Linked DNA regions of Homo sapiens: region 1 is reported to be linked to region 2. Evidence: microRNA targets listed by miRTarBase, many of them from high-throughput screens and not tested one by one. Region 2 holds a microRNA gene; the other region holds the end of a gene's coding sequence.

Region 1 (4,000 bases), not on the chromosome of region 2:
GCAGATGGATACTGACTTGCCCAAAGTCACATAGTGAGTCAGTGCTTGGGGCAGGGCAGGAAGTAGGTCTCCTAACTCCTAGCCCAGGACATGCAATATTTTTTCCACTGACATGCACTATTCTCCTGCTTCCATTTTTTACAGGGGCCTATAGAAACTCTCCTTTTGCTCCGCTTCCTCCTCTCCTTCACAAGTAACGTGGCCCCTCCTCTCCTCCTCTAGATTCTGGCCTGTGCCTTGGCAGCCTCCATCCTTCGCAGGCATCTCATGGTCTGGAAAGTGTTTGCCCCTAAGTGAGTAGATTTGCTTGAGAAGTAGAGGTGGTGGGGAGGGAGAAACTTGGAACAAAGTATGAAGATCCTAAACATCCAGGATGGCCAAGGTTTTGCCTCTACAGGGAAAAGGCAGTAGACCTACTCTGTTGCCTGAGATTCTCCGCCTTTCTTTGCAGGTTCATATTTGAGGCTGTGGGCTTCATTGTGAGCAGCGTGGGACTTCTCCTGGGCATAGCTTTGGTGATGAGAGTGGATGGTGCTGTGAGCTCCTGGTTCAGGCAGCTATTTCTGGCCCAGCAGAGGTAGCCTAGTCTGTGATTACTGGCACTTGGCTACAGAGAGTGCTTGAGAACAGTGTAGCCTGGCCTGTACAGGTACTGGATGATCTGCAAGACAGGCTCAGCCATACTCTTACTATCATGCAGCCAGGGGCCGCTGACATCTAGGACTTCATTATTCTATAATTCAGGACCACAGTGGAGTATGATCCCTAACTCCTGATTTGGATGCATCTGAGGGACAAGGGGGGCGGTCTCCGAAGTGGAATAAAATAGGCCGGGCGTGGTGACTTGCACCTATAATCCCAGCACTTTGGGAGGCAGAGGTGGGAGGATTGCTTGGTCCCAGGAGTTCAAGACCAGCCTGTGGAACATAACAAGACCCCGTCTCTACTATTTAAAAAAAAGTGTAATAAAATGATAATATAATTATGTGTGTCTGAGATGTGGGGGAGCCCCACTGTTCTATAGGGGTTGTGAGGAGGATCAGTCTCTCCTGCCACCAGGCACAGATGAGATCAGTCATCTTAGGAAAGCCTGGCTGCACCTGAGAACCTTTATGAAGTGGTTGGAGTTGTCTGAATTCACTGCCTCCACCTCTTCCCAAATCAATCCTATTATCCCACCGCTATTTTCCTTTGCCATGCAACACATTTTGTTAAGTTCCTGTTCTTTGTCTGATAAAGAGAGAAGACTGAGAAGACAAGCCCAGGCATCATGCAGCACCGACTTTAACTGTCTGAAGCCCCAAATAGTGCTATGCCCCCGCTCCACTGGGCCTTTTCACTATAGAACACCCTTTGCCCTTCCCTTCTGTGGAAGCCTCCCTTGTTTCCCAACCTGTGCCACTCTTTATCAGATCTACATGCCCATCTTATGTAGCATTCCACCTTGTCCCATTCATTATTCCTGACTTGAAGCCAAAATTGTGTGAATCCACTGGTTCTTTTCTCATGTGTATGTTTTGTGCCCTCTGTTCACCCCAGCACTCCTGTCATGTTTGAAATGCTGGCATGAAATCCTCCTAGAGATGTCCATCAAAAGAGTTGGGAAGAGGCCCTGGAGAGAAGCATCAGGACTGGGATTTGAGGTTTGACAGTACCTAGAACAAGAGGAGCTGATACCACTGAAAAACAGAACAGATGTTAAAACCATGGGATAGCACCTACTTTTAGCTGGCATAAAGTAGAGAAGCTGAGTAGTAGTGGTTGTGAAGTATAAACGTTCACTGCTGTGGTAGGTAGCTAAGGGAAGAATTGAAATTATTTTTATTGTTACTATCATTTTAAAGACATATTTTTGCTCTATTGTCCAGGCTGGAGGGCAGTGGTGCAATCATAGCTCCCTGTAGTTTCAAACTCCTGGGCTCAAGTGATCCATCTCAGCCTCCTCAGTATCTGGGACCATGCCTGGCTAATTTTTAAATTTCTGTACAGACAGAGTCTTGCTACATTGCCCAGGCTGTTCGTGAACTCCTGGCCTCAAGCGATCCTTCCACCTTGGCCTCTCAAAGCACTAGGATTACAGGTGTGAGCCACAGCACCTGGCTAAGTTCAGATTATTAATGGCCAGTGGTCCCTAGTGTTACAGATGCCAAATAGTAAGATGATGAAAAGTATGGTTCAGCTGGGTGTGGTGCCTCATGCCTGTAATCTCAGCACTTTGGGGAGCCAAGGCGGGTGGATCACCTGAGGTCAGGAGTTTGAGACCAGCCTGGCCAACATGGCAAAACCCCATCTCTACTAAAAATACAAAAATTAGCCAGGTGTGGTGGTGTGCACCTGTAATTCCGGCTACTCAGGAGGCTGAGGCAGGAGAATCGCTTGAACCTGGGAGGCAGAGGTTACAGTGAGCCAAGATCACGCTACTGCACTCCAGCCTGGGAGACAGAGCCAGACTCTCTCTCAAAAAAAAAAAAAAAAAAAAAGGGATAGGTTGTTAACCATGGTAGAAAGAGGTTTAATAATGCAAGGGGGTGAAGTTGGCCCCAGCTGGCCTGTAAGATGAATTAGAAAAACGCTTCTCCCCAAGTCTGGTGGACACAACTCCCAAGCATAGTTCGGTGAGCAAATGGTGTCTTTTTGAGAAAGGGGAAAAAAACCAAAACAAAAACCTTTCCTCCATCCCTAGCACCCATGGAAGGATTTTAGGCCCTAGTTCCTCCACTTCTCAGCCAGGTACCCTGCACTTTTTGCAGTAGCCTCCTTGCCTGGAGCCTAAGGCTAATTTGCTGATCTGCCAACCACTGTCTATTCTTTCTCCTGGTGTATCTATAAGATTCTATTAGATAAAGACATTAGTACATTGATTTACGCTATTAAAAATTATTTCTAGCCAGGCACTGTGGCATGTCCCTATAGTCCCAGCTACTTGGGAGGCAGAGGTGGGAGGATCACTTGAGGATAGCAAGACTCCGTCTCTACAAAAATAAAAAAATTAGCCAGGCATGGTCCCAGCTATGTAGAGGCTGAGGTGGATCACTTGAGCCCAGGAGTTAGAGGCTGTAGTGCACAATGAATGCACCTGTGAATAGCCACTGCACTCCAGCCTGGGCAACATAGATCCTCTCTCTTTTAAAAAGAAAAATTATCTTATCCCTCCCTTTTCCTTGAAATCAGAGTCCATTCCACACTAACTCAATGATTCTTTTTTTTTTTCCTTTAATTTTTTGTAGAGGTGGGGGTCTTGCTGTCTTGCCTAGGCTGGTCTTGAACTCCTGGCCTCAAGCCATCCTCCTGCCTCGACCTCCTCAAGTGTTGGGATTGCAGGTGTGAGCCATTGCACCCAGCCCTGATTCTTTTTTAAAAAAGCTTTATTGAAATGCAATTTACCATAAAATTTACCCATGTAAGGTGTAAGATTTAATGGTTTTTGTGTATTTACAGAATTGTACAACCATCACCAGAATCAATTTTAGAACATTTTCACCAACCCCAAAAGAAAATCTACTGTTTAGATATCACCCTCCAATCCTCCCCAACCCCTGGCTAGCACTAATCTGCTGTTTCTCTATATATTTGCCCATTTTGGATATTTCACAGAAATGGGATCATAATAATATGTGGTCTTTTGTGACTGGCATCTTCCACTTAGTATAATGTTTTCCGGTTTCATCTATATAGCAGCACACAGCAGTACTTCATTCTTTTTCTTTTTTAAAATTGAAGTAAAATTCATATAAAATTCACCATTTTAAAGTGTATAATTTAGTGGCCGTTAGTACATTCACAACGTTGTACAATTATCATCATTATCAATTCCAGAATGTTTTCATTACCCCAAAAAGAAACCCTGTACCCTTAAGCAGTCATTCCTTCTCTTCTCCCCCTTAACTCCTGGTACCACTAATTTGTTTTCTGTCTCTATAGATTTGCCTGTTCTGGACATTTCATATAAATGGGCTCATACAGTAGTGCCTTTTTCTGTCTTATCTTCCTTTACTCAGCC
Region 2 (4,380 bases):
ACTTTACCTCCACCTCTATTGAATACTGTAGCATTTTCCAATGTTTCTCTTATTCTAACCACCTTCCTTCTACTTATAAGAACCCTTGTGATTATGTTGGACTCACCTAGATAATCTAGGATAATCCCAATCTCAAAATATTTAGTCATATCTGCAAATTTCCTTCTACCATAAAATGTGATGTTTTTGAGTTCAGGGGTTGCTCTGTAAACATCTTTTGGAGGGGGACTGTTATTCTGCATACCACAGAGATCCTATAATTTGTATTTAGAGTTTCACCTAAATATGTTATGTTTATATTATTTTATGTTTTAATTAGGTGGATTTAATCATTGTATAATATATACATATATCCAAACATCATGTTGTACACCTTAAATATATACAAAAGTTATGTCAGTTAAACCTTAATAAATTGGTAGAAACACGGATGAATGATACAAAAAAGTATTTCACTGAAAGAAAAACCACAAATAACAGTGAATAGAGTACTCTTTTGAGAAATCATAAAAGAGATATGATACTAACTAAATTCTCTTCTTTCGTTTTAGGATATGACTTAAAATTATATAAGTACACATGCATTCACTATAATACAGTTTTAGAAATTATATACTAAAAAGTGTTATCACTTTGGAAATTTCTATGTACATACAGCATTTCCAACTGACAGAATTTTTTTACTGTTCAGAATGTTCCCCCGCCCCCAATGAAAAAGATGCTATGTAATCTATTAGAGCAATTGTTTTAATATTGAAAAAGATACTTCAACTGATTGTTTTTTTACTTCCAGACATTAATGGTCTTAAACATATTCATCCATTCTGAACGTAACAAAACAAACTAAAATCCTGCCTGTAACCATATAGTAATTGTTTTTTATACTTTCTCCCTTTTGATGTATATGCTATAACCTCTATTTCCATTGGAATCAAATTTGTATTAATAACTTACTATTTATAACATTTTTAACACATTTCTGCAATATAAGTAGCTTATTTATAACCTACTTCTCAAAAATGCATACTAGTTTCATGCTGCAGATGGCCTCACACCATCCGGCACTTGTCTTACTCTTTTGCCCTCTCTCTCTTTTTTTGTGTGTTTGTGTGTGTGTGTATTTCCCTCTATCTCTCTCCATTAGGTTAAGAGTTAAGAAGTGTCAACACAAGAAAATGGGACCAGGCGTGGTGGCTCACGCCTGTGATCTCAGCCATTTGGGAGGCTTAGGTGGGTGGATCAGGAGGTCAGCAGTTCGAGACCAGCCTCATCAACATGGTGAAACCCCATCTCTACTAAAAATACAAAAAGTAGCCAGGTGTGTTGGGGCACACCTGTAATCCCAACTACTCGGGAGGCTGAGGAAGGAGAATCCCTTGAACCTGGGAGATAGATAGAGGTTGCAGTGAGCCCAGATCACACCGCTGCACTCCAGCCTGGGCGAAAGAGCAAGACTCTGTCACACACACACACACACAAAGAAAATGGGGAGAGAAGACTAGGAGATATCTCTTGAGTATCAATTCCATCATACCCTTCCATTGTTCATACATATTCTTAAAAAACGGGGAAAAAAGATAATGAAAAAGAGTGAAATATTCTTGGGTGGACTATGCTTAATCCTTCATAAATTGGTGACTTAAGGCTTTGAAAGGTATTTTAAAAGTCAATGAGAAAATGTTTTAGTCTTTGACAGAAAATGGACGCTGTGGATCAGCAATGAAGGGACCTGAGAGGCAGGAGAGTCTTTTGGGAGCGCTAAAGGAGAATCCTTGCAAATGATGACTAGTTGATAAGTGAAAAAAGTTTAGAGAATTTAGGAATCTGGAGTAAAGCATTCCAGCTGACGAAGAATGGCTGTGGCCTCTATCCAATGTATTTCCTATTTGAGCCAAGCCTCATTTGGCAAAAATAAATTCTTAAGGAACCTAAGTGCATGCGTTTTCTCAGGAGTCCACAATTCCTATGTACAGTCGTCTAGAAGGCACAAAAAGTTCCTTGAAGTGTAGCCCAGCACTGAGGAGTGGGTGCACAGGATGCAAAACAGGCATCACCATGCTCGCAGCTACACCCCCATCCTCAGGGACACCACATATGCAGTGCATGCTGTACATTACCCTTCTCAGAAAGGTGAAATTTATATTTTAGTTCACATAAATGACACCTCCCTGTGAAAGGCACTGTACGCTGAATGGCTGAATGTGGCATCCCAGACCAAATGCTCCCTTTTCATGCTGTTTTTATTCAAGTCCCTATAGGTGTATGCCTTCGCATGGCCACCAAGATTTATGCCAAGGGACAATGCAACTTGTAACCCCCAGCACTCCCCTTTTCATCCTGCCCCGAGTGAGATTTTGACATGCAGATTTTTGTTTTGTTTTTGTTTTCAGATGAAGTCTGGCTCTGTCACCCAGTCTGGCATGCATTGGCGTGATCTCAGCTCACTGCAACCTCCGCTTCCTGGGTTCAAGCACTTCTCCTGCCTCAGCCTCCCGAGTAGCTTAGGTTAAAGGCACACACCACCTCGAATGGCTAATTAACACGCAGATTTTTAGACTGATCAAGAATAGAGCTTTTCACTTCATCTCTTCCCCAAAGGCGAGTAATCCTTGTCTGAATTATCCCATTAGTTTTCACGTTAATTTGCTTGTCTCATTAAAAATCCTCAAAATCAGGCCAGGCACAGTGGCTCATGCCTGTTATCCCAGCACTTTGGTAGGCCAAGGCTGGTAGATCATCTGAGGTCAGGAGTTTGAGACCAGCCTGGACAACGTGGTGAAACTCCATCTCAACTACAAATACAAAAAATCAGCCGGGTGTGGTGGTGGGTGACTGTAACCCCAGCTAATCTGGATGCTGAGGCAGGAGAATCATTTGAACCCAGGAGACAGAGGTTGCAGTGAGCCGAGGTTGTGCCGTTGTGCTCCAGCCTGGGCAACAAAAGTGAAAATCCATCTAAAAAAAAAAAAAAAAAATCTTCAGAGTCGGCCGGGCATGGTGGCTCATGCCTGTAATCCCAGTACTTTGGGTGGTCCAGGTGTGCATATCACTTAAGGCCAGGAGTTTGAGACCACCCTGGCCAACATGGTCAAACACCATCTCTACTAATAATACAAACTTAGCGGGGTGTGGTGGCTCGCGCCTGTAATCACAGCTACTCAGGAGGATCACTTGAACCTGGGAGGCAGAGGTTGCAGTGAGCGGAGATAGTGCCAATATACTCCAGCCCGGGTTACAGAGTGAGACCCTGTCTCAAAAAAAAAACAACAAACAAACAAAAAAACCCCAAAAACTTTTAAAATTACAGTTAAGTAGGCAGGGCCAACCACTCACCAAAGCTCTCTATGGTCCTAAAACTCCAGCTGTGCTGCACAGACCCTAATTCCAATGGAAAAACCACAGAATACAACCACCTGGATCCAAACTACTAGAGAAGAGTCAGACAGTACCAGGTTGGAGAGAGCAGAAATTTAATTTCTTCTTCAGGCTATGCAGTGGGAAGAACCCATAGAAATTAATACGAGAGACAGACAAGACAGATAATGGGCTGGAAGACAAGAAATGCTATTTAATTTTTCTTAGTTCCATGGTTCTTTATAGTACATTTATTTGGGCTCAGTCTCTCTCTCTCGCTGTGTGATTAACAATTAATAGTGCTAGGATTTTTTAGCTTTAATATTTACTGTTTGCATTAATATATTTTCCATCCTTTTACCCAACTTTCACGTAGGTCTTCATATTTAAAATGGTTTCGTTTTAGAAAGTGTACAGCTGTTTCTTATTTTTACATAATTTGACAGTGTCTCTCTTAATTGAAGCATTTATATCATTTATTATAATTATTTATGTACATGCGTTTAAATCTACTGGCTTTCTAGTTGTTTTCTGTACTTCATCCTTTTGTAATTCCTAATTTTCCTGTTTTTCTGCCTGATGGTAGATTTAGTATTTTTATCATTCAGTTATATTTTCTGCACTCTTGGCTTATTAGTTGGTCACTTTAAAAGAATAGCGGTTGCTCTGGAGTTTTCAGTGTTCATATTTAATTCATCACAGTCTATCTATCTTCAAAGAATATTTTACTAGTTTATGAACCCTGAACATTTGAGACAGGTCTCAGTTAATTTCAGAAGTTAATTTTTCCAAGGTTGAGGATGCACACCCATTACCCAGCCTCAGGAGGTCCTGAGGGCGTGTGCCCAAGGTGGTCAGAGCACAGTTTGGTTTTAAATATTTTAGGGAGACATGAGACATCAGTCAAAATATGTAAAATGAATGTTGGTTAGGTCCGGTCCAAAAAGGTGGGACAATTCAAAGTAGGGAGGAGGCTTCCAGGTCACAGGTAGATGAGAGAGAAATGGTTGCATTCTTTTGAGTTTA

The links. The annotated mature microRNA hsa-miR-513a-5p reads UUCACAGGGAGGUGUCAU and lies in region 2 at 2,158-2,175, opposite strand. An mRNA with a match to its seed (bases 2 to 7 or 8) in the 3' UTR can be bound and repressed. Matches are read on the target gene's strand: a 7mer-m8 pairs with bases 2 to 8, a 7mer-A1 pairs with bases 2 to 7 and ends in A, and an 8mer does both.
Region 1: miRTarBase lists PIGO as a target of hsa-miR-513a-5p. The part of its 3' UTR that is shown has no 7-base or 8-base seed match.

Annotation. Positions count from the first base shown.
Region 1 is chr9:35,085,673-35,089,672 of GRCh38, reverse strand. It overlaps PIGO (phosphatidylinositol glycan anchor biosynthesis class O), which reads left to right. Exons shown (of 11, transcript NM_032634.4): 10 at 223-293; 11 at 452-985. The coding sequence ends at 581. Among named protein-coding and RNA genes, the nearest start is that of FANCG, 7.7 kb to the right of the region's middle.
Region 2 is chrX:147,211,381-147,215,760 of GRCh38, forward strand. MIR513A1 (microRNA 513a-1) reads right to left here and starts at 2,211; the gene lies at 2,083-2,211. All of the region lies in intron 1 of LOC105373347 (periphilin-1), which reads left to right.